Linked DNA regions of Homo sapiens. The protein of the gene in region 1 purifies or fractionates together with the protein of each later gene. This does not show direct contact. Each region holds a gene or a part of one and is shown on either strand. Other genes may lie near its edges.

What was found.
Region 2: the proteins of TRIB2 (region 1) and GSTA4 purify together in Homo sapiens (affinity purification with mass spectrometry; 2 studies listed by BioGRID and IntAct, with this or other methods). This does not show direct contact.

What each region holds. Positions count from the first base shown.
Region 1 is NC_000002.12:12,733,936-12,737,435, reverse strand, and holds part of TRIB2 (tribbles homolog 2), read right to left. Parts: intron 70-3,500; exon of another isoform or gene 1-69.
Region 2 is NC_000006.12:52,992,485-52,996,685, reverse strand, and holds the start of GSTA4 (glutathione S-transferase A4), read left to right. Parts: upstream 1-1,401; 5' UTR 1,402-1,437; intron 1,438-2,284; exon of another isoform or gene 2,285-2,424; 5' UTR 2,425-2,442; coding exon 2,443-2,529; intron 2,530-4,201. UniProt on the Homo sapiens protein: Conjugation of reduced glutathione to a wide number of exogenous and endogenous hydrophobic electrophiles. This isozyme has a high catalytic efficiency with 4-hydroxyalkenals such as 4-hydroxynonenal (4-HNE).

The DNA of each region.
Region 1 (3,500 bases):
AGGAGGAAGGCGGGGATCTCGAACCACAGGCACCGTGAGTTCTCTCCACAGCTTCCTCTACCCATTCTCACCCAGCGCAAGCCAGACTCCTCATCTCCAATTTCACTGTTTTAGCAGAATAGCTATGGAAAGAATTACAACTGTGGAAATAATAGTAAGAAGAAAAACAAGCTCTCCCATCTGTGGGACAAGGGGCGGTCCAGTGGAACAAGCATGGATCTTGGTATCAAAGGGCCCAGGTTTTGCCCAGGTTCGTCTGCCCCAAACCTGCAGTGGTGATGCAGCTCATCCAGGTGGAGGCCTAGGGCTTGGTCACGGCTGCAGGGTGACCCCCAGGGACTCTCGACCATCTCTTGGGCCACACTCCCTCTCTCTCCATCCCAGCCTGTTTGCTGTTCCTCACATGCCCAGCTTGGCCCCAGTCCTTCTGAGGCCTTTGCCACAGTGTCCCCTTGCCCTAATTGTGCTTCCCCAACTGTGTGACAGCTCACTTTTGTCTTGCCTCTGCTCGAATGAAGGTTATTAAACTTGATCCTGTCCATCCTACATTACGGAGCACGCCCTCCTCCTCTTTTCAGCATGGGAGATATCGTACATTTACATTTCATGATTTACTATGTATCATTATGGTGATCATTTTGGGATGATCACCTCACTTCCCACCTCCAAGAGCCCATGGGCATGTGGTTGATGTCATTTTGTACGCAGAGAACAACACTTAAGTTTGCTGCTGTACCTTGAGTACCTAGACGAGTACCTGGCACAGGGCAGATACACAATCCATCAATGACAGGGACTGTCCTGCTGTCGACCCCAGGGGGTGAGCTTCAGTGCGCTCACCGGCAAAGGAACAAGGGCCGGTGCTCTGCCTACCTGGCCAGGGTTTAGTGGCAGTCAATGAGAGCTCTACAGAGGATGGGCTTTGTAAATGACAGCATCAAGGAATCTCCCATAGTGATAAGGGGGTGGGGATATCAGGCATCTGTCAGTAAAGGTGGGAGGGAGATATGACTACAGGGACTTGAATTTCTCCTCGCTCAGTCTTGTCAGGGTGCAGAGCTCACCACCTCAAGCTTTTCGTGCAAGGGACTCTCGACCATCTCCCTCTCCCTCCTTCCCAGCCTGTTTGCTGTTCCTCACATGCCCTGCTTGACCCCAGTCCTTCTGAGGCCTTTGCCACAGTGTCTCCCCACCCGGATTGTGCTTCCCCGACTGTGTCAGCTCACTTTTGTCGCATCTCTGACCAAATCTGAGGCCCTTTTCCATTCCTATCCCCTTCCAGGTCACAATTTTAGATTCTGACTTTCTCCTTCACCTCCTCCTGCCCCCAGGTGTCCCCACATTCAAAGCATCCTAACCCCTCTTTCTGGAAGCCTCAGAAAATGGTTAAGGCCTCCACTCTGTCCACTAACCCTGGCCTTCCCCCAAGCTGGAGTTCACCTTTCACCTTTCCTACCTCAAGATGAGCACCCAGAATCTAGGCCCGATACTTCGTGAATTTGAGAATAAAATGAAAAGACCATCCCACATGCTGCCAAATACCAGCTGCCCCTAAGCTCATGTATCCAACACTACGTGCTCCTTTCCTTCAGAGGCTGAAATTTTAGTGGGGAGGGCCCAGGTCTGCTTGTCACATTTGGTTCGGCACATGCTGCAGAAGGACAACCACAAAAACCAGCCCAGGTCAGAGAGCAAAGCAGTGTCCTGAGGCCACAGAGACCTGGGTTCAAGATCAGGCCTTGAAAATTACAAAGTACCAAACGGCAGATGTCATCTATGTACCTAATGCATGCGAGGCACTTACACATATAGTCTCTTTAAAGTTTAGGAGATCCATTTCCAAGGCAGGTACTATGATTCCTTTTCTCATGGACAATGAGCCTAATGCTCAGAGAGTCTGAGTAGGCTCCTACGGCTGGCAAGGCAAGGCAGTGGCTGGGTGCTCACCTTCCTTAGGCCTGACCCCACCTACTCAAGCAGCTGGCGGAGGAAACCACACCAGGGTTGCTCAGTTCACTAGGCTCCATCAAGGTGCGCTGTACGTGTGCTTCCCCAGTGTCAGGGGACAGCCAATCCTTGGGGCAGGAGCCTGCTCTTTCTCTAGGGGAGAATCTGCATCCCAGGCAGGAGAGGGGCAAAAGAAAAGAGAAGCCGGGAGAAAGGATGGGGAGGAAATGCAGGCTTGCTGGCCTTGGTAGGTCATTCTTTTGACCTTGCTTCCTTCTCAGAACACTGTGAACTTGTTTACAAAACTTCTAGGCAAGGGTCAAGGCAACTGGTCTGGATTACGTCTTTCAACGAGGACCTTTCAGGATGCATACCACGCGAGAGGAATGGAGGGAGGTCTGACAGGCGGGGGTGAGTGTCAGCTCTGGTCACTGTGGACTTGCTGTGTAACTGCAGGGAGGCTGCTGAAGGTCTTTGGGCCTTGGCTCCCTCCTCTGGGAAAGAGGGCTGCCAGTCACGGTCTCAAGAATGTGTATGGGGAGTCCCTGGTGGGGCTCTAGCACATGTCAGAAATGGGAGCAGAAATGAATGAACAGTCTTGCAATGGCTCATGTCCCCTCACAGTCTGGGCATTATGAATTTTCCAGGCAAAGGAGCTGATTTCCATAAAAACCAACAGAAGCATCTGTGGACCTAGTAATTCAAATGTCCCACTAGTCATGCAGGCATGTAAAAGACATTTACCGAGCATTTACTCTGCTTGAGTTCCCCAACTAGGCACTGGGGAGACAGACATGACAAGTAACACCCACCTTCTCAGTTTTTGTGAGAATTAACTGTAATAATGCAAGTACGGTATCTACCGAGGAGCCTAGCATGGTAGATCTGCAAAAAACTGGGGGCAACAATAATGATCGATCTTATTATTAAGAATGAACCTTTGCACCTACCCTCAACCCAAAAGCCTAGTGGAGAAGATAGGTGAGGAAGCACGAAATGCAAGTCCCCAGCATACGGCCGTAGATGTGAATTCTCGTTCCTTCCTGGGTCTTTTGCACTTGTTCCTCCCGCGGGCTGGAATGCTTTTCCCCAGCTCTGTGCCCAGCCCAGTCCCCTCACTTTATTCAGTTCTGACTACAGTAATCAGGATATGCTTCCTGGAAGTGGTGGTACCAGAAACAGTCCGAGAAGAATAAACATTTCCCAAAGAGACAAGGGGTGGAGGGTGGTGGCAATTTTTGTGCCTAAAACGCTGTAAATGACAATGGTTATCTCCAGTAACTTCTCAGGGGAAGAGACATCTCCCTGCCAGCCACCAGCCTGGGGCAGGATTGGTTTGGCCAGAGAAGCTGGATCCCTGCAGGCCTTTTGCAAACTGTGCCTGGCATAGGAAGAGAACAGCCTGCTTTGCTCTCAACCTGCTGAATGAACAAGGCTTACACGTGGGCAGCCTGTGTACTCAATGACGGCCCAGCCCAGTGCCAGGCCTTGTGTCACCGGATCCCGGTGCCAGGTGAGGAAGCCAAAAGCAGCAGGGTGTGGTTCCTCTCCCA
Region 2 (4,201 bases), on another chromosome or scaffold:
AGTTTTAATATATTTTTAATGTTTTAACTAACTTGCCAGCCAAATTATTCTTTTAGCACCACCCCCAACTCCAAAGACCCCCTTCCAAACAGGTGCTGACTTGAGACCGTGACTATAGAGCACTTGTCTCTAAAATGTACAAAATGAAGAGAAATCTCAAGATGTCCCACTGAGATGAAGAAAGAAAGAAGAAAATATGTATGTTTGTATACATGTATACATGTATATATATGTATACACAAAATTAGAAAAGTTAGGGTCTACTGTATAAATTAAATAAGCGTTGACAGTGCTTTTGATTTTAATCTGTATGTGGTACTTTGCCTGCTTAACACCCTTATGTGGATTTCCTGACGGACTTGACATTCCTGTCAGGAAAGCATTGCGTACTTGCTGATTAAAAAGCATCTAAGGGCCGGGAGCGGTGGCTCACGCCTGCAATCCCAGCACGAGGCAGGAGGATCACCTGACGTCAGGAGTTCAAGACCACCCTGGTCAACATGGCGAAACCCCGTCTTTACTAAAAATAGAAAAATTAGCCGGGCATGGTGGCGCGCGCCTGTAATCCCAGCTACTCGGGAGGCTGAGTCAGGAGAATCGCTTGAACCCGGGAGGTGGAGGTTACAGTGAGCCGAGATCCGTCTCAAAAATAAAAAATAAATAATGAAAAAAATTAAAAATTTAAAAATTAAAAAACATTTAAAAAAGCATCTAACTTAGATGGGTAATGGGTCAAAAGAAAGGCAGACTGCCACATGCAGCGCCTCATTTGGATGTGTCTGGAGTCTTGGAAGCTTGACTACCCTACGTTCTCCTACAAATGGACCTTGAGAGCTTGTTTGGAGGTTCTAGCAGGGGAGCGCAGCTACTCGTATACCCTTGACCGAAGACCGGTCCTCCTCTATCGGGGATGGTCGTCCTCTTCGACCGAGCGCGCAGCTTCGGGAGGGACGCACATGGAGCGGTGAGGGAGGAAGGGGACACCCGCCTAGCCAGCCAGATCAGCCGAATCAACCCTGGCGATCAATGGGGTGACAGATGTCGCAGCCAGATCGCCCTCACATCCGAGGTACCCAAGCGGCGCACAAGCTATATAAACCTGAAGGAAGTCTCAACTTTACACTTAGGTCAAGTTGCTTATCGTACTAGAGCTTCAGCAGGAAATTTAACTAAAATCTAATTTAACCAGCATAGCAAATATCATTTATTCCCAAAATGCTAAAGTTTGAGATAAACGGACTTGATTTCCGGCTGTTTTGACACTATCCAGAATGCCTTGCAGATGGGTGGGGCATGCTAAATACTGCAGTCTCCATTGGTGAGGTCGTCCCGGAGCCTCGCCCAGCTCCCGCGCGCTAGAGCCGCCTGCTGGTCTCACCCAGCCGGGACCGCTGACCTGGCGCTTTGTGCGGCTCCAGGCCTCCGAGTGGACTCCAGGTCTGTCTCCCTCCTGCGGTCGCCCCCTTCCTCGCCCTTTCTCTCTTCTTTTTTTTCCCTCCCCTTTACTCTCTGAGTCTCACTCTCGCATTCTTCCCTCACTCCCCCAGTTCAGTCCTTCTCTTGTCTTTTCTTCCTCTTGTCCTTTGTCCTCCTGCTCCATCCAGTCTGGGCAGAGGTGGGCCCCTTGGCTGGAGCTGGGGTCCTTCTTGGCTCAGTGTGCGTATTTTTTTTTAAACCCCTTCTGCGGAGTCTGAATGCATTGGTGGAAGGTGGGCTCGGATCGTCCCCGGGCCTGGCTGGGCTGCCGCTACGCCCCTGCATGGGCTGAGCGGGGAAGACGAGCATGGGAGAGTGCGATCTCAGATGGCCAAGCCCTGGCCCCCGGCTCGTTTTACAAGGCCGGGGGCTCATCTCCCTGTAGGGGTGGTGGACACGCGGGACCCGGGGGGCGCAGCCACCGCATGCGTGACGGTGGACGCACATTTTGCAGACAGTAGTAGTACTCGGCCTGTTCACCTTCCAGTTGCCGTGATAATAAAATATGATGATGTATGTAAAAGCATGAATACTTGAAGAGCTTCCAGTGGCTGTGCGATTTTCCTTCGCTACCCTCTTCAACGCCTGCCACCCCCTATCCCCCAGCTGAATTTGGAAAATCTGAGATTCTCGAGGTCAAAATATATAATATTCTGAATTTGTGAAATCCCGTACTGCTAGCACATATGTTTTTACAACAAATGGCCCCAGCTTCCCAAGATCCAGGATAAGAAGTCATAAATAGAAATCATATAAAAGCCAAGGTTTTTTTCTCCATGTTTTAAAATGGTGGTTTTTTTTTCTTGAGTGAGGGAAAATGCAGCAACAAAAATAAAGAACAGTTTCCCGTGCCAAAATCCTGAATATTCATTTCGCCCCTGAGCACTGGGTTGAAGACGCGAAATTGGGACTGTTGGTCTGCGACGAGCTGCTGCATTTGTATTTCAGAAAGCCTGAAAAGCTATCATGGCAGCAAGGCCCAAGCTCCACTATCCCAACGGAAGAGGCCGGATGGAGTCCGTGAGATGGGTTTTAGCTGCCGCCGGAGTCGAGGTACCTTATATGCTGTTTCTTCACGGATTTGTCATACAGCTTTTGAGACCTTTGAAAGAAAAATACGTTTTGAAGCACCGTTCAGTTCTAGTTCTCGTCCACCAAAATCACAGGCACGCTTCACTGAGTCAGATACCATCCCTGAAGGGATTTTTCTTTATAATTAGAACGTAGTTGATGGAATTCTATTTTCCTTTTGACTTTTACTTAATTATTGGCTTCTGATCTAGCACCAGTGAATATTTATTAATAAGAAGAAAGGAAATTTACCTGAAAATTGTCAGTTACTCTGAGCTCTTATTAATTATGCATTCTCAGGGTAAATTTCTTGTTTTCTTCAGTGGCTTCAAACTGGCAGCCTTGGTATCTTGCTTACATATGTGTGTGTGTCTGTTTTTGTTTTCGTTCTGTTCTTTTAGCTTCTTAGTATGGAAATTTTCAAATACCAATAAATGTAGAGAGAACATTGCCATGAATTCTATGTACTCATCACCCGACTTCAGCAATCATCAGCTCTATGCTAATCTTGTTTCATCTATCACCTCCCTTCCCTTGTTTTGTGGGAGTATTTTAAAGCAAAATCCAAACATCATAACATTTCATCTGGGAGTTCCTCAACATTTTCCTCTAACAGATGAGGATTTTAAAATGTAACAATATTATTATCACATCCAACAAAATTAGCAATTCTTTGTCATCTAACCTTCAGTCTGATTGTCTCAAACAGGCATTTTGTTTGTTTGTTTGTTTTTATAGTTTGTTTTAGTTTGGATCTAGACATTGGTCTACGCATTACATTTAAAATGGTTATGTTTCTTTCGGTATTTTAAAAACCTGTAAGTTTCCTCTTCATTTTTTACAAATTTATATTTGGGAATATTTTCAGATTTATAGAAAAGTTGTAAAATAATACAGTCCCTCATTCAGTCTCCCTTAATGATAACATCTTACATCACCATGTCATATTACGAAATTAACATTGGTGCATGACTAACTAAACTACAGACTTTATTCAGATTTCACTGTTTTTTCTACTAATGTTCTGGGTTTTTTTTTGACGGAGGCTGGCTCTGTAGCCCAGGCTGGAGTGCAGTGGTGTGATCTCGGCTCACTGCAACCTCCGCCTCCCAGGATCAAGCAATTCCCCTGCCTCAGCCTACCTAGTAGCTGGGACTACAGGTGCACACCACCACGACCAGCTAATTTTTGTATTTTTTTAGTAGAGACAGGGTTTCTCCATGTTGGCCAGGCTGATCTTGAGCTCCAGACCTCAAGTGATGCACCCACCTGGGCCTCTCAAAGTACTGGGATTACAGGTGTGAACCACCACGCCCGGCCCTTTGCTAATGTCCTTTTACTATCCCGCGATCCAACATTATATTTATTCATCCTGTTTCCATAGTTGCCAACAATCCATGACAATTTCCCAGTCGTTTCCTTCATTTTACCATCTTGACGGTTTTGAAAAGCACTGGTCAGATATTTTTGTAGAATCCTCTACAAATTGGGTTTATCTTGTTTTTTTCATGATTAGACTGAGGTTATGGGTTTGGGGAAAGAATGCCACAGAGGTGAAGTATGTTCACGTCATCATATTAGGGGTTACGTATCAACATGAGTTGTCACTGGCAGTATTAACCTGGATCACATGGTTAAGGTAGTCTCTGCCAGG